4 linked regions of the Homo sapiens genome follow. The protein of the gene in region 1 purifies or fractionates together with the protein of each later gene. This does not show direct contact. Each region holds a gene or a part of one and is shown on either strand. Other genes may lie near its edges.

Region 1 (4,589 bases):
CAAATAGCTGGGGCTACAGGTGAACGCCATCATGCCCAGCTAATTTTTTTTAAATTTTCTGGATGAGGTCTCCCTATGTTGCCGAGGCTGGTCTCGAACTCCTGGGCTCAAGTGATCCTCCTGCCTCAGCCTCCCAAAGTGCTGGAATTATAGGCTGAGCCACCATACCTGACAGAAGTCTTTCCAGTAGAAGAGATGGCTACTGATCACAACTAGACAGAATGGCTAAAGGGTAGAGATGGTTCATGTCCTAATAGGAAGAAAGAAAATTAGTTGGATAGAGAACACGTTGATAGATTTGGAGAGTGAGAAATTTCTTTTCTATTGTTTCCCTTGTCTCATAGAAAAAAAAGAAACAAAGTGAGAGAAGCATAGAAGGTCTGAATAAAGAGGAGAATACTTGTTGGGGAGAGGTTAAGTGTGAATTGATCAGAACAGTGTATAAGGATTGTCACACAGTGCTGCGGGCCTTTGATTTTCAGGGCCATAAATTTAAAGTAAAAAGAGTCAGTAGGTATAGATGCAAGCAGCTGGATGTTTTTCAGATCAGAAGGATAAGAATTTAGGGGATGTGCAAGGACAATGATGTCTATGCTAAAGAAAGTGAGGGTGATGGGCTGGGAGTGGTGGCTCACACCTGTAATCCCAGCACTTTGGGAGGCCGAGGCGGGTGGATCATGAGGTCAAGAGATTGATACCATCCTGGCCAACATGGTGAAACCCCATCTCTACTAAAAATACAAAAATTAGCTGGGTGTGGTGGTGCGCATCTGTAGTCCCAGCTACTCGGGAGGCTGGGGCAGAAGAATCGCTTGAACCCAGGAGATGGAGGCTGCGGTGAGCCGAGATCATGCCACTGCACTCCAGCCTGGCAACAGAGTGACACCCCATCTCTAAATAAATAAACAAACATTAAAAAAAAGAAAGTGAGGGTGATGAAATTATAGATAAGTGATAGATGATAGAATCAATTGTCTGAAGAACCTAGTGGAGTCAAAGAATTGTTGGTATATTCATAATCAAAACAGTAACCTAGAAAGAGGGGTGAGTAGGATGCTAGAAATTGGGACTGTGGAGGTGACGACAAGATCTAAAGCAGTGTTCTTCAAAACTATATGTTAAGTCCCATTAGTGGGTCATGAAATCAATTTGATGGATCAGCCTCTTAAATTAACATTATTAACCCTGCTGAACATAACAGTCTTGTAGGGGACCTTAAAAACACACAAACAAACAAAACCACCATCATGTCATTCTCAGTCACATGGAAGGAACTGGAGGACATTGTTAATTAAGTGAAATAAGTGAGAAACAGAAAGTTAAACACTGCATGTTCTCACTCGTATGTATAAGCTAAAAAAAAGATCTCACAGAAGTAAAAAGTAGAATAGAGGATACTAGAGGCTGGGAAGGATAGGGGAAAGGGAGCAATAGGGAGACATTTGCTAAAGGATACAAAATTATAGCTAGATAGGAAGAAGAAGTTCCTAGTATTCTCTACCACTGCAGGGTGACTATAGTTAATATATGGCTTCAAATGTCTAGGAAGAGGATACTGAATGTTCTCAACACAAAATGATAAATGAGATGATGGATATGCTAATTACAATGATTAGATCACAATATATGTATTGAAACATCACTACGTACCTCATAAATATGTACATTATATGTCAATTTTAAGTTTAAAAATTTTTAAAAGACCATACTTCAATTGCAGAATTTCTGATATATTTGGTCTGGTGTAGGGGTTCAGACATCAGTTATTCATTAAAATTCTCCAGATAACTACAATGTGCAGGTATAGTCAATAACCATTGGCCCAAGAAGATACTGATATAAAAAGGCTGATAATAGAACTAATGGTAGAAAGATAGTAAGCCACTTGCTAAAGTCTTCTAAGAATTAGGGAGAGAAGTATGAGATCACTTGTATGATGAATTACAATAAGGTACGGCAACAGGTGTCATAGTCTAATGGGAGTCAATGTGCTCAACAAAGAGCATTTGCAAGTGAGAAGAGCGTATATTCATACGCACACACGTTTAACCATTTTGTGGACAGATAACAAAAATAAACTTTGGCTTCATTTCTTATTATTTTGAACTAAATGGAAATAAAAGTCAGTTAAGAAAGGTGCCTGGCACCTATGTTCAGGGATTTGTCCATATCCCACCATGATAAAGTTTGATTTGAATAAACTTTACTTAATTTTAGAATTAAGAGTATCCCTAATATAAAATTATAAAAACCTTATTTGTAAGAAAGAGAAAATAAATAGGCTAGAAAGTTTATTGGCAAATCTAGGTCAAGCTCCATAATTTAAAATTATTTAAAACAAAATCAAAAACATCTATAAAAGGTCAGAACATTCAGTATTTTAAGATAAAATTTTTTCAAAACAATATCATGGTTATGAAAACAACATTTGGCAGGCTATACATTTTTAAATTATAGAAAACATTAAAAATAAAATATCTAACAAAATATGTCTTGCTGTTGCTTTTGGGGAAAAGGTGGAGACAAATATTTTTTATTTTATTTACATATATTTATTAAAAGATTTCCATATGGTATTGCAAACAGTCCCATGTCTCTTGTATTTTGCTATAATATATGAATTCACACAAAGGAGATGGGATACATAAAATTACAAAGGTGGTAGAAAAGCAAACCAGCCCACATCCTAATACACACTAAAAAGGGCATAATTCAGATATATAAGCCATATTAGTTTTAGAAAAAGAGCACTGCCCACCCCCAGGTATACACACACACACACACACACACACTTCACTTTATTAAACCACAAGAGGAAACAAAATATATCATAAGTAACTGATCATTCACTTTCCTATGTTAGTTTTTATGTTTTTCAATCATAATGAAATATATTAAGAACAGATTTTCTTCACGATTGATTTTTGTATCTGATATTCTTTTTTGTACTTCTGTTGTTTCATTAACATAGGTATACACCCAAATTCTTTAAAATTACAACTTTGAAAATTAATTGTAAAAAGCTGTTTTCCATGTATATTACACAGTTCGGCGTTAAAAATGGCATTTTGGGGAACTGGTAAATTATAACACACAGGCTTAGAAGAAAAAGAGTGGTATCACTGAATGTATATTGGAATTTAACAAAACGTTTTACTGTATTTACCCCATATATTTTTCTTTTTTTTTTTTTCTGAGACAGAGTGTTACTCTGTCACCCAGGCTGGAGTGCAATGGCATGATCTTGGCTCACCGCAGCCTCCACCTCCCGGGTTCAAGCAATTCTCCTGCCTCAGCCTCCCAAGTGGCTGGGATTACAGGTGCCCGCCACCAAGCCCAGATAATTTTTGTATTTTTAGTAGAGATGGGGTTTCACCACATTGCTCAGGCTGGTCTCAAACTCCTGACCTTAGGAAATCCACTCGCCTCGGCCTCCCAAAGTGCTGGGATTACAGGCGTGAGCCACTGCACCCGGCCTACCCCATATACTTTTATACTTTGAAACCTTAGATTAATACACCGAGGAATTTTATTTCCTAGAAAAATGTCCCAAATTTCTGTTCTATTGTTTTATACAAAACTCTGCATATAGCTTTTAGTTTGCTTTTGAATTTGTGTTACATAGAGTCCATATGATGATAGTTAACATTTTACATAATATATAAATGTATCTTTCTCATCATAGTTCTTCTAGATGGCAATAACACGTTATATATGGTAGTTATTTTACCAAGACCTCTGCTATTATAAGAAGACTAGACCTGAATATATTCCCCTTGACAACAGACAGTAGATCTATGAATAATTTTAAGAAGAAAAAGTTAAGCATGACAGCATAGCATCAAAGTTGATAATTCTTTGTGAATACATTAAGATATGGTCTAAACATAGGCATGACAACTAAAAACAAGTACTGTAAGAATATTTACATACACATATCATGGCTTATTAATAAACAGATTATTAAAGAATAATGTGAATACATTATATTAATTCACAGTATAAACATACTTTTAGTAATTTAATTCATGAATAATAAAAATATAGATACATTAGGCACTATTAATACATATTCTTGTTCTGTCATATATATGAAAATATACATATAGATATAGTTCTTTTAAACCAAACTTTTTAACATATTCACTGATTTAAATAAAAGTTGACAGAGGTAGAATTTGTGTCCATGTTCATGATTTTCAGCAACAAGTACTTCAAATATTTCATTACTGTTCTGTTCTTTTAAAAATCCACATAGGAACTCATTGAAAGCCATTATTCTGAAAGGGAGGAAATTGAAAGGTGGGTTAAGAGAAAAATGATAAAGTTATTCAACATATTCATAAAAAACTGAAATTCAATAATGTTATAAATGAAATTATAGAATCTAATAAAACTCTGTGCCCCACATCCAGTTATATTTAAGAAGTACTGTTCTACTTCTGAAAGTTCAAGTACTGTTTTATTCATTGTACTTTATTTTATTTATTTATTTATTTATTTATTTAGAGATAGGGTCTTGCCGTGTTGCCCAGGCTGGAGTGCAGTGGCGTGATCATAGCTCACTGCAGTCTTGATCTCCCATACTC
Region 2 (4,797 bases), on another chromosome or scaffold:
TGGCTCACGCCTGTAATCCCAGCACTTTAGGAGGTGGAGGAGGGCGGATCGCAAGGTCAGGAGATCAAGACCATCCTGGCTAACATGGTGAAACCCGCCTCTACTAAAAATACAAAAAATTAGCCAGGCATGGTGGTGGGCGCCTGTAGTCCCAGCTACTCGGGAGGCTGAAGCAGGAGAATGGCGTGAACCCAGGAGGTGGAGCTTGCAGTGAGCCGAGATCGCGCCACTGCACTCCAGCCTGGGCAACAGAGCGAGATTCCATCTCAAAAAAAAAAAAGGAGAAGAAAAAAAGAACAGCACTCTGGTGTCAAGAGCCCAGGGAGGCACTACCTATCATGATGAACACCACTCTTCTCACTTCACAGACGACAGACAGCGTCACCAAGGTGAGTGGCCTGCCAAGTGAAGTCTAGAGTGGATGTGACTCAACTCCTTACCCTGCACCATGCTGCCTCTGCATGAGTCCCATTTGCAGCTGCCCAGACACTTCTGCTGACCCTCAGTGCTGGACAGTCATTCTTGCAGAGGCGGCCAGCTCTCCCATGTGGAGAGCTCAGCGGCTCCCATGATTCCCATGAGGCTTGCTCGGTCCTGCCTGGTGCCCTCACAAGAGAACCCTTCAGCAAAAACAGGTGCAGTGCTCAGCACAGCTGGCGGGGGCCCAGCTTGCTGCCTGGTGTCTGGAAATCTTTTTCCGCACGGATGACACTAGACCTTAGACAAACACCACAGGGCGTTTGCCCTCCTAGAGCATGTGGGGCCAAGGGCCTGGTCCAGCTGTGAGCAGTAGACAGTCCAGGAGCAGGCTGCAAGCCATGCTGGTCCATGGGGGCTCTGGACAGCCACGTGGTCTGGCCCTGCTGAAGGGCTGTCCCAGGGCGAGTCCCCGATCATGACACCAACCCCTGGCCCTGAGCGCTTACTCTGTGCTGAGGGCACTTTGCCAACTGCCCCAAGACTGCCCTCAACAGCTGTCTTGGGAAGGGCTACCATCCCCCTTACGAATGAGGAAACAGAGGCACAGGGCAGTTAAGCAACTTGCCCCAAGCATCTAAGACAAAGGGTTAAGATATGCCTTCCTGGCCCTATCAGTGCTCGCTGACACTCTGAGGGTAGTCCCCATGCAGGGCCCCACACCAACAAGCTCCCTGGAAGACCCCACTCACTGCTCCCTGGGCTCACTCCTTCGCTCCCAGGCACTCATTCCTGCTCAATGATTTTCTTCATTCCTGGTCTTTGACCCTTCCTTCCTTTCACTCATCTGGGCTTGCCGGGCCCCTCTAATCTTGCACCGCACTCAGGTCTGTCAAGGTTCTTCCACCTGCTCCTGCTCCCCGAAGGATACAGCACCTGAGGAGGGGCCAGGGGATCACTGCACCAGGCAGACAGGGTCTCCTGCACAGGCCACACCCACAGCGAACGTTGACTTCACTGCATCCTCCCAGCGACCCTTGGATGCAGGTACCGTCATAATCCCTCTTCTGGAGATTAGAAAACTGAGGCTCAGAGAAGGGAAGTGACTTGCCCAAAACCTGACAACTGGTAACAAAGGGTTAAGAGCACAGACCCTGAGCCACTACACTTTCTGGCCTTCAGAGTGGGAAGACTGCCCCCTCCAGAGTCCTAACCCTGGCTTGTCTCTTTCTTGCTTGGAAAGCTCTTCTTCCAGCTCCTTAGACCTTCCTGGCACTATGCTGCTCCTGGAAGAACACTCAGAAAAACTAAAGTGTACACTTCAATGGGGACCACAGGGCCAAACCACGGACAGACGTACCTGCCTCCCGGTACTGGCCAAACACCAGGTCCGTGTTGTCCAGGGCGGCGGCACTCCCCACGTGCGTGCCCTCCTCACCATAGTTGGTCATGTAGAAGGAGATCCGGCCCTGGGGGTGTAGAGGGGACCGGGGTCCCACAATTGGTTATGCTGGGCAATGACAGAGAGCCATCCAAATCCTGCCCAGCTTCCAACACCTCCATGAATTCACAGTCCTCCTGAAGGCCAGTCCTGGGCCAGGCCATGCTGGGGTTCCTGCCTTTAAGAAGACGCTGCCAGACTGCTTAGAACTGCCAGAGGGATCGAGTTGCTGTGATAGAAGCCCAAAGGAAGCACCTGTTCCACCACGGAAGGGCATCGGTGAGGACCAGTGCGCAAAGATGGGGTGGGTGGAGGGTTCCAGGCAGAGGGAATGATAGACCATGAGGCCAGAAGGGCTGGGACATACAGTGGTAGGGGTGGGGAAAGATGAGGAGGGAGAGGAGATGGCACCCAGATAACAAAGGGAACGATACATTGATTTTACTCTGAGAATAGTGGTAACCTGCCGACAGTCTTCTCAAGGGAGCAATGTGGTCAGACCTGTGTTTTAGAATTGCTCTCAGGCTGCAGTGAGGTAAATGGATGGAGTCATCAAGGCTGATTGCAGCAAGCCAGGAGAGAGGGGGCAGAGGCCCAGCTTGGTAGCAGAGGGAGGCGGGAGAGGAGCAGGTGGATGTGTCTGAGGAAGCTGAGTCGGCTGTGCTAGGGGGCAGCAGACCCTGTCAGCTGGCCACACCAGTGCCCAGTTCCCTTCTCCCAAATCCCCTAACCTGAGCCTCAAAAAGACACGCACTCAGGTCCCTGGCCTCCCTTGCAGCCAGAGGTGGCCATGGGACACAGTTTTAGCCAGATATTTTGGTGGAAGTCTGCTTTTGCTTTCTGGATAGAAGAGACCACTGCTGCTGGTGCCAGCCCTACCCACTCCCTACTTCTTCCTGCCTTGCAGACAGCCATGAAGCTTGGACATGCAGCAGCCATGCTGTGAACACGAGGCCACAAGCAGAGCACGAAGGTCAACTCACCAACAACAGTGAAGCAGAGAAAGGATGGGGCTGGGTCTCAGAGTGTGCTGCTGAGCAGCTGAGCACTTCCTAAAGATGTATCTACAGACAGGCTAGGCACGGTGGCTCACACCTGTAATCCCGGTACTTTGGGAGGCCAAGGCAGGCGGATCACTTGAGGTCAGGAGTTCCAGACTAGCCTGGCCAATGTGGTGAAACCCCATCTCTACTAAAAATACAAAAATTAGCCGAGTGTGGTGGTGGGCGCCTGTAATCCCAGCTACTTGGGGGGCTAAGGCAGGAGAATCACTTGAACCTGGGAGGCGGAGGTTGCAGTGAGCCGAGATTGCGCCACTGCACTCCAGCCTGGGCGACAGAGGTGGACTCCGTCTCTAAATAAATAAATAAAAATAACATAAAAGAAAAGAAGTAGCTACAGCTGGGTGCAGTGGCTCACACCTATAATCCTACCATTTTGGGAGGCCAAGGCAGGCAGATCACCTGAGGTAGGGAGTTCGAGACCAGACTGACCAACATGGAGAAACCCCATCTCTACTAAAAATACAAAATTAGCCAGGTGTGGTGGCGCATGCCTGTAATCCCAGCTACTCGGGAGGCTGAGGCAGGAGAATCGCTTGAACCAGGGAGGCGGTGAGCCAAGATCGTGCCATTGCACTCCAGCCTGGGCAACAAGAGCAAAACTCCATCTCAAAAGTAAAAAAAAAAAAAAAAAAGAAATATCTACAGACAGAGGGAATGAGAGGGGAGAAAGGGATAGCAAGGGGGAGGGAGGAGACAGGGATGAGATGAGGTTTCTGGTGTGGGCAAGCAGGTGGATGGTGGTGCTCTTCACTGAGAAACGGACTAGGTGAGGCAAAGGAGCACGCCTGGGAGGAAGATGTCGAGGTCAAGTTCAGACAGGATTAGTTTGCTGTGGGACATCCAGGGCGAGAAGCCAAGCAGGGCTCTGACAAGCAGTCTGGCTGGGGCTCTGGGCAGCCCTGGCATACGGATGGACATGAGATCACACAGGGCCATGTGTAAAGCGGAACAAAGGCAGCCTGGCCAGCACCCTGAGGGACACCCCGGGGCCAGAGCTCCTCGCGGCTCGGCGGTGCCCTCCTCCATGTGTTCCCAGGCCTGGCTTTCCCGTTGCTGTGGGGGAAACTGATGAATGTGTGCTTTCTTCTAAGTGGGGAGCCAATTAAAAGTTAATGCACATTCCAGTGCCAAGTGAGTGGGCGGTGCTGAGTACTGAGGGCCTGGCAGGACTGTCCAGGTTAGCGTGGGTAAGAGCCTGCAACCAGCCCCCTGAGGATCAGGACTCGGGGCTACTGGCAGAGGCTCCTGGTTGCCTTCCCAGTATACTATTCCCCTCCTCTGTTAACAGAGGTCTCAATCTCCCGCAGGCAGCAACTGCCGGGACTAAAGTATTATTAATACATTTCTCAGTCTCCCCTGCAGCTAGGAGTGGCCCAGGAAATGTATGCAGATGTCACTAGGTGGGACTACCCAGAAAGCTCTATAAAGGTGGGGGTGTGGGATAGCTGGGATGTGCCATGTCTGGCCTTCCGCCTTCCCTCTACTTCCTGCCTGGAAGACCCCCTGGATCTAGCTGTGCCCCAAAACAGGACCCTCTGGATGTATGGTCATTGGAGTCAATAACTTCCCTCTTTGTTGACACTGGCTTGACTGGATCCTTGTCCCTGATACTAGGATTTATCAGGGGATCACAGCCCATTTCACATGGGCCTAGGGCGGTCCCCTGGAGCACTCCAGGAAGCACTGGGGACCCACCCTGTTTCTCAGGACTGTGCATTTCCAAGAGGAAGGGCTGTCAGGCCTTCTCCCTGCCCTCTCCCCACACAGGCGAGCCCCCAGCCAGGCACACAGTAGGTGTTTTTTAGTGATCAGGTCCATCCTTCTGCCCTAAGGCAGGACTGCTCTCACACTTCTCCTCCAGAGTCCCAAGAGAAC
Region 3 (3,878 bases), on another chromosome or scaffold:
AGGCTTGCCTTAGTCACCAGCCAGAGGTTTCAGGAATCGACCTGCAATCACGTTTACTCTGAGACCTGGTGAGACAGCAGCCTGGCCACTTGCGTGTAGGAGCCAATGTCAGGCCTTGTTGTCAGAGCTGTGACCAAGCCCCATCTGTGCTCCTCTCTGACTTGGTGACCTTTGGTGATGAGAGGCCTCTCACTCTCACTTTCCTCAGGTATGAGGTGGAAACAATTAACTACCAAACCTGGCTGTTAGATAAGCAAATAACATCTTGAATGTAAATTTCTTTTTAACTTGAGTGCTTTGCAATTCAAGATCCCAGATTATTGTATATATAAATTTCAGTGGAGTCAGAGGATTTTGTCCAGTTAACGTTTAACACAGCAGTTTTATCCTGGGGTCCATAGACCCAGAGGGATCTGTGGATAGCATTCAGTGAGTCTGTGGACTCAGGCAGGGGAAAAATATGCATCTTTATTACTAACCTCTAATTGAAATTCAGCATTCCTTCTGTTATGAATGTCATCAAGGAACCACAGTGCCATTAGCAGTATGTGTGATTTTATCACAAGGAGAAAAGTAGATATGTACATATCATTGCACGGATCCAGAGGTCCGAAATACAGCCTGAATGTACTACCTTGAATGTATGGCAGTTATCAGACTGGCTCATGGTCACGACTGAGGCCCAGTGCCATTCTGCCCACCTCCTGCAGCTTGCTCAGCTACCTGGCAACTCAGCATCAAGTAGCCGTTCAGACCTAAACAGTAAATTCAGGTGTTCTCACCCTTGGAGTTTTACTCAGAATGCCTTGGAGAATCCTGGCGTTTCTTTGGAGAAGACTACCTGTGCCTTGTTTCCCTTTTTTTTTTTTTTCTAAGAGACAGAGTCTCACTCTGTTGCCCAGGCTGGAGTGCAATGGTGCGAACGTGGCTCACTGCAACCTCCGCCTCCCAGGTTCAAGTGATTCTTCTGCCTCAGCCTCCTGAGTAGCTGGGATTACAGGTGCGTGCTACCAGCCCTGGCTAATTTTTGTATTTTTAGTAGAGACAGGGTTTCACCATGTTGGCCAAGCTGGTCTCGAACTCCTGACCTCAGGTGATCTGCCCACTTTGGCCTCCCAAAGTGCTGGGATTACAGGCACAAGCCACTGTGCCCGGCCTTGTTTACCTTTCTGTTACATTAGCAACAACATATCGTCATGAATCAGAATTTACACCACTTGTACAATAAAAGATCAGAATCCGTTGCATGCCTAGCATGGCACGTGGGACGTGTTGCCAAAGACCAGTGCAGTTTAATGTACTTCTTCAAGCTAAGTAACAACATCCATCACACAGATAATGTGTTCATAGAATAAAATTCAACTCTTCTATATTTTAAATGTATTGCTTTCCCAGCTAATGTGTGCATAAAGAAACACATACCTTACTGCATCACAAATTTATTTTTTACAAGTTAGTCACTGTTACTCAATGTGGTAGTTTCTCTCTGTAATCCAATGCACTTTATACATTTAGAAGCAATTTTCTGATAAATGTTTCATAAACTTCATGAAACCAACGAAATGGCCTGTAGCACAAAAATGTTTAAGCATTGTTTTTGCCACAAGTTTCCTTCAGCTTTAAAGGATTATGCAATCTTTATATTCAAATATACGATTGTAGGTATATTCTATTCTAATTCTAAAATAAATAAATATGAGTCTAAACCTCACTTTTTCAAAAATTCAGTTACAGAAAACATTATAAATGATAAAAAATGAGGATTAGATGGTAAGAATTTTATAGTTATATAAATATATTTTAATAAAAATTTAAAAATAGTTATACTTTGAAAAATGAAGCCACAAATAAAAATTTGTTGACTAGAATTAACAAAATTTCCTTTCCTGTAAATTATTTCTAGTTTGCAAAGTCAGTTAGTCTAAAGATTTCTTATTCTTTTAGTTGTGCTTAGGTGGGTTTTGAAAAGATTGCTTTATTTTAGAGTACTAGCATGATTCTTAAAAGCATACTTTTATTAATCACAAAAGCACAAAATTATGTCACATGTAATTTTATTGATTCAAACATATCTTATTATACCTACCACTACCATTAACTATTACCACCAGAAACCACCATTTTCACAAAAATTTTATGTACACATTATGTACATGTTCTTATTCTCATTCTCACCTGTGTTTGTGATAAACAAAATACAGAGTTGAAAAATTATGATTCAGCCTTGCTCCTACCCCAAATTAGTGTACATGTCTCAGATTCTTGGACTGAAAATAGAAAAATTTGACAAAGCAGCTGTGATATTCTTTGCTCATTGACCAGGAATTTTTCTTTACAGGTGTGGGGATATTTCTAGAATGCAGTTGACTGAATAGCAATCTTCATGTTCTCAATGTTGTTTTACATGTAATCATTGTCCTTAAGTCTCATTTGAATTAGGAAACTTATGTTGTAAGGAAATACTTGTGCTGCCTGATAGAAGGTGTCCTTCATGAAGGGTCTGGGGAGGGAGTAGGGGAGATGGGAGATGCATGGGTCTTGGCCCTAGAACAAAGGTAGTGGGGGCAGTTTGCATGCTTGTGACATCTGAGATCAATGACTAGGAAAAGGACACACAACCAGTGTCCCAGGGAAGAGTCACTGTGGATTAATAACTGCATAAGTCTATTTGACTTCTGGCCCTTGGCAGCTAGACAGGAGGGATAATGCTCTAATCCCAAGCTGCTCAAAAATGTGATCCTTTGGGCACAGCCTTGGTGTACCTTGGGCGTCTGTTAAAATCCAGAAGTTCTAATCTCTCCCCAGACCTGCTGAATGAAACTCTGAATTTTAACAAGATCCCCGAGTGAGTTTTAGACACATTACCATTTGAAAACCTCTGACCTTGTTCAGAGATTGGACTTCTGAACGTGGGGAAAAGGAGGAGATGATTACGAGCTCCTTGTCAGGGTGGGGAGGCTGGAACAAGAGTCCACTTCTGGTGACCCAGAGCAAAGGAGCAGAAGAAGGCAAGAGGACAGTAGAGTCGCTCAGTGCTTACTGGAGAGGAGGAGTCATATCCTGCATGTCCTCTTCTGCCCACCCACCTCAACCTATGGTGTGGAGTTGCTGCTTTCTCTTCTGAGAACTCCCCTCCCTCCATCCTAAACTAAACATGCTCAGGACCTTGGAAGGACTCTAACTGCTTCTCTACTAGCTCTTACACTTTTTTCTTTTTCCCTCTTTCTCACTTCCTATTCCTTCTTCCTTTCCTTCTTATTTATCCTAGACTTCTCTGGATTCGAACTTCTTCATCTGGAAAATGAGAAGTCATCTGTCCCAAGCTCCCACAGTTGTTCTGAGTCTCAAGTAGCATAACATAAGTGAGAATGTTTCATTAAGTACACTGTACATTATTAAAGTGAGAGATTAAATTATGTTTATAATCAAGGAGTTGAATTATCTTTTGAAGTCACGCCCCCAGTCCTCTACTTACCACCATGCATTCTTTCAATTCTGTTTGAACTGCAAGCACTGCAGTGACTTCGTCATTTGGACGTACTGACTTGGGAATGTCAAAATTCTTTATTATGATCTTCCGACTGATTGTGGGAAGAGAGAATCAGAACACCAGGATCAGAGACCAATCTTTGAGTGAGGGGGGAGCCATGAACAGGGCAAGGGGCACAGGATGGGCAAGGGAGGGAAATTATGGGGCTTGGATCAATTGTTCAGCATTGGAATCCCCTGGAATTTTCATGTGTTGATTGGATTGGTAACTTCACACAGATTTAATTTTGTTTAATAAAACAACTAGGACACTTTAAGATTCCTTAAAGAACTAAAAGTAGAACTACCATTTGATCCAGCAATCCCACTACTGGGTATCTACCCAGAGG
Region 4 (4,797 bases), on another chromosome or scaffold:
AATTACATTCAAACAAAGTTGATGTAAGTTACTTCTTAGGAATCATTAAGTTAACTTGTTCCCTAAGAAATACATTTTTGTTTGAGATCATCTTAAAATATGTATTCACAGCTCACATTTATTTTTTAGAAAATATACACTAAATATTTTGAAGCTGTGATTTACTTTAAAGATTATGTTTGTACTTTTTTTGACAATGGAAAGATTTTCTTTTTTCTTTTCTTTTTTTTTGAGACAGAGTCTTGCTCTGTCGCCTAGGCTGGAGTACAGTGGTGCCATCTCAGCTCACTACAACCTCCACCTCCTGGGTTCAAGCAATTCTCCTGCCTCAGTCCCCCGAGTAGCTAGGATTACAGGCGTGCACCACAATGCCCAGCTAATTTTTAGACAGGGTTTCACCATGTTGGCCAGGCTGGTCTTGAACTCCTGACCTCATGATCTGCCCGCCTCAGCCTCCCAAAGTGCTGGGATTACAGGCGTGAGCCACTGTGCCTTGCCAGAAAGGTTTTCTTACTAAAGAATATGTAAGTAGATAAATATAAAATTTCAGTTTCTATGGATACTTAAGAGGTATTTTTGAATTCTGTATTAGGAGAACAGCCACTATTTAAAGAAAAGTGATATTTCCCTTAAAAATTCTGATTATTTTACTATGAGCTAACTGTATGTACTTACTTTAGCAAAGGAGAAAGGCAAGTATTGTATAAATGTACTGTATTCAACCCAACAAAATTGCTAATACTTGACCATTTGACTTAAAAAAAAATGACACTTTTATGTGGCTTAGCCATTAGCAGGAGCATGGGTTTTTCAAAGTCAGTTTATGGTATAATCTCTGGAATTTAGCAATTTTGGGGTAGTAATAGTTCTTATCCAACCTTCTCATACCTATACCCACTTTCTTGTACTTAGGAAATATTTATATTGTTATTTTAATTTCATTCATATCATCTTTCTGGCCTCCTAGAAGCTTTAATTAGCTGCCTTTGACCAAAGATAGTCCTTTTTTTTGTTTTGTTTTGGTCTATCCAGCGTATAGAACCCAGCACTGTCAGTTCTTTGAGAACCCAGCACATATCAAGAATCATATGTGTTTTTCTTTCTTTACACTTCCCAATATGTCTTACAAATGTATTTTAATACTGACATGCATATTATACATTTATAAGCCAAAAATTAATCTACTATTCCTGTCTCATCTAACTACTCATTTCTGTCCCTCCCTCCCTCCCTCCTTCCCTCCCTCCCTCCCTTCTTTCTTCCCTCCTTTCCTTTCCTTCCTCCTTCCTTCCTTTTTTTCCATAGTTGAAATAATTTCAAAGAAATAACACACATCACATCATTTAATCTATAAATACTTCCGTGTGTATTTCTAACAGATAAGAATTTTTAACAAGCACAACCACAATACTGTTACGACCTAACAAAAGAGTTCCTTAATCCAGTCTGTGTTCAGACTTCTCTTATTCTTTAAGTGTCTTTTTACACTGATTTGTTTAAATCATCCAACTAAGAGTTACACATTTCATTTAGTTTATATGTTTCTTAAGTTTTTCTTAACCTTAATCACCTCCCCCCACCTTTTTTTTTCTTTTTGAAATGGAGTTTTGCCCTTGTTGCCCAGGCTGGAGTGCAGTGGCGTGATCTTGGCTCACTGCATCGTCCGTCTCCTGGGTTCAAGCGATTTTCCTGCTTCAGCCTCCCGAGTAGCTGGGATTATAGGCATGCACCACCAGCCTTGGCTTATTTTGTGTTTTTAGTAGCGACAGGGTTTTGCCATGTTGGCCAAGCTGGTCTCAAGCTCCTGATTTCAAGTGATCCACCCGCCTCCGCCTCCCAAAGTGCTGGGATTATAGGCATGAGCCACTGCACCCAGCCAATAATCCCCTTTCTTAACTCATACCCCCTGTGCTCCTTTCCCATGCTATTTATTTGTTGAAAAAAATAGGTTATTGTTCCAGGATAATTTTCCACATTTTGGATTTGGCTGATTGAATCCTTGTTATGGTATTTAACATGTTCCTTTACCCCTCATATTTCCCACAAATTAGTAGTTAAATACAGAGCAGTGGTTCTGAACTTTGGCTAAAACTTTAGAATTATCTGGAGAGCTTTTAGTTATCCTGATCCCTAGGCCACATCTCCGATAAATTAATCAGAGCCCATGAGGTAAAATGTCATCATCAATATTTTAAAAAATTTACCAAGTGATTTCAGTCTGTAGCCAAGATTGAGAGCCCTAGTTGGTAGAGCTTGATGAGTTTAGGTTCAGTTTCTTTGGCAAGAAATATTTATAAAGAGTGGTTATATAATTTATTTGCAATCAGACAATTTTGAGAATGAAAGGGGGTGCTATAATGATTACACAGAAGGAATAGTTTAAACTGGAATTGTTCTAGACAAATTAGGATTTATAGTCATTCCATTAGATGGGGCTGTGAATTCTTGTTGGATCGTTCTAGGAGGTAACTTAAGTGGTGGTTCTACTTTTAGTGATACTAAATGGATCATTTGGTTTAGGTTCTGTCAGTGGGATCCAAATGTAATTTATTTTTAACTTTTCACTTAATGATAATTCTTGCCTATATCCATTATTTCATTAGAAGAGTGATTTTTTTTGGTCATTTCTTTTGTATTTATTAACTGGAATTCTTTCATAAAGAATTCCCTCATCAATTATTTGGTTACCTTGTAATACGGTTTGTAAAGAAAAAGCAGGATAAATGCTTATTTTTTTCCCCTTTATCAGTAATTTTCAGAAAAATGAATTGATGCCCGCCCTCACAACTCCCAAAGGTGAGGTTTGGGAGGGAGTATCATTAGGAACTCATGAGTTTTACCATATGTGATACATTCTAATTTATCATAGTCATTATTTTTGGTGTTCAATTTGTTGTATCTTTGATGATTGGCGGTCTCTTAAATTAGTTTCCTAAGGCTGCCAAAAAACTGCTACATACTTGGTAGCTTAAAACATCAGAAATTATCTCACAGTTTTGGAGGCTAGAAGTCCAAAATCAAGGCTCTAGGGAAGAATCTTTGCTTGTCTCTTCTATCTTCTTGTGGCTTGGTTGGTATTCCTTGACTTGTGGCGGCAAAACTCCTGTCTTTGCCTTCATCTTCCCTTGGTCTTCTTTCTGCATCTTCTTTTCTGTCTCTTAGGGTCTACCTTATTCCTGGATGTTCTCAGCTCAAGATCCTTACCATAATTACCTCTCCAAAGATCTAGTCTGCTCACATACTGTGGTTCTGGGTGGACATAACTTTTGGGAGCCACAGTTTAATACACTACAGTTCTTTTTTTGACCCCTAAAACTTCATTTACATCCCATATGCAAAATAAATTCACCTCATCCCAACATCCTCAAAAGTCTCGACCTATTACAGCATGAACTCTGTTTTTTTTTTTTTTTTTTAGATGGAATTTCACTCTCTCGCCCAGGCTGGAGTGTAGTGGCAGAATCTTGGCTCACTGCAACCTCTGCCTCCTGGGTTCAAGCCATTTTCCTGCCTCAGTCTCCCAAGTAGCTGGGACTACAGGAGCGTGCCGCCATGCCTGGCTAATTTTTTGTATTTTTAGTGGAGACGGGGTTTCACTATGTTAGGATGGGCTCCATCTCCTGACCTCGTGATCTGCCCGCCTCGGCCTCCCAAAGTGCTGGGATTACAGGCATGAGCCACCATGCCCAGCTACAGCATGAACTCTTAAGTCCAAAATCTCCAAATATTATAACCTCAAAAAGTTTGAAATCTCATTGTCTTAAATCATCTAAATTAGGTAAGAGTATGGACTCGGCATGATTCATTTGGGATAAAATTCTCCATCTGTGGACCTGTGAAACTGGAAAACAACTTATCTGCTTCCAAAATACAATGATGAGAGGATGAGACAGCTGTTAAGATAGACATTCCCATTCAAAAGGAAGAAAATGGAAAGAATAAAGGATCTCCGGTTTCAAGCAAGTTCAAAACTCAGCAGGACAAATTTCTCTAGGTTTCAGGGCCTGAGAATAATCCTCTGTGGCTTGATCCTCTGCCCTCTGGGCCCATGGAGGCTCTGTCTGCAGCTGGTGTGGGCCTGTTTCTCCCCTACCCCCAACCCCCACTATGCTGCTCGCCTTCAGTCATTTTTACTTTTCCCTGAAGGGTTGCACATGTTTGTAGTTGAGTAACTGTATTAGCCCATTTCTTGCCTATAAAATCCCAGAAGTAAGACACTTTAAAAAATTTTGTCCCATCTCTGTTCCTTTCAGTACAGGCTGACAGCATTTTTGTTGGTATGATATTCTTTAAAACCTTGTCAGTCTCCTTACATATCAAGGGGGTCCATATCATTAGACGAGAGGATTCTTCACAGTTCCTTACTGATAACCCCATCTCCATTCCTCGTTTCTGTTGAGATGATTGATGGGATCCATGAGTCACACTGCTAGTATCTTCAGCATATGGTTGTCCAGCCACGTGGCCTGCTCTCTAGAACACACTTTTCTAACAGTGAATTTCCTAATTTCCGCATCCTTTGTATTCTGAATAATCTGAGAACCTCCCAGTTAATCGTTGTTTCCTTTTGCTTAAAGTTCCTTCTTCAATTTATCTCTTTCTTCTTGTATTTTACTATAAATATCAAGGAGGAACCAAGCTGTACCTTCAGCACTTTGCTTGGAAATCTCCTAGGCTAAATATTCAAGTTCATGGCTTCCAGATTCTCCTTTCTATCCCACAGTAGAACATAGTTCAGCCACTTTATAACATAGCTCACCTTTCTTCCAGTTCCCAGTCACATATTCTTTATTTACT

The links. Proteins that work in one complex are often made in the same cells at the same time.
Region 2: the proteins of CEP135 (region 1) and BCKDHA purify together in Homo sapiens (co-immunoprecipitation; one large-scale study listed by IntAct). This does not show direct contact.
Region 3: the proteins of CEP135 (region 1) and PIP purify together in Homo sapiens (co-immunoprecipitation; one large-scale study listed by IntAct). This does not show direct contact.
Region 4: the proteins of CEP135 (region 1) and ZMYM4 purify together in Homo sapiens (co-immunoprecipitation; one large-scale study listed by IntAct). This does not show direct contact.

Annotation. Positions count from the first base shown.
Region 1 is NC_000004.12:56,031,051-56,035,639, reverse strand, and holds the end of CEP135 (centrosomal protein of 135 kDa), read right to left. Parts: intron 4,281-4,589; 3' UTR 2,279-4,280; downstream 1-2,278. UniProt on the Homo sapiens protein: Centrosomal microtubule-binding protein involved in centriole biogenesis. Acts as a scaffolding protein during early centriole biogenesis.
Region 2 is NC_000019.10:41,411,138-41,415,934, reverse strand, and holds part of BCKDHA (2-oxoisovalerate dehydrogenase subunit alpha, mitochondrial isoform 1 precursor), read right to left. Parts: intron 1,887-4,797; coding exon 1,778-1,886; intron 1-1,777. UniProt on the Homo sapiens protein: Together with BCKDHB forms the heterotetrameric E1 subunit of the mitochondrial branched-chain alpha-ketoacid dehydrogenase (BCKD) complex.
Region 3 is NC_000007.14:143,134,897-143,138,774, reverse strand, and holds part of PIP (prolactin-inducible protein precursor), read right to left. Parts: intron 3,582-3,878; coding exon 3,476-3,581; intron 1-3,475.
Region 4 is NC_000001.11:35,275,029-35,279,825, forward strand, and holds part of ZMYM4 (zinc finger MYM-type protein 4), read left to right. Parts: intron 1-4,797. UniProt on the Homo sapiens protein: Plays a role in the regulation of cell morphology and cytoskeletal organization.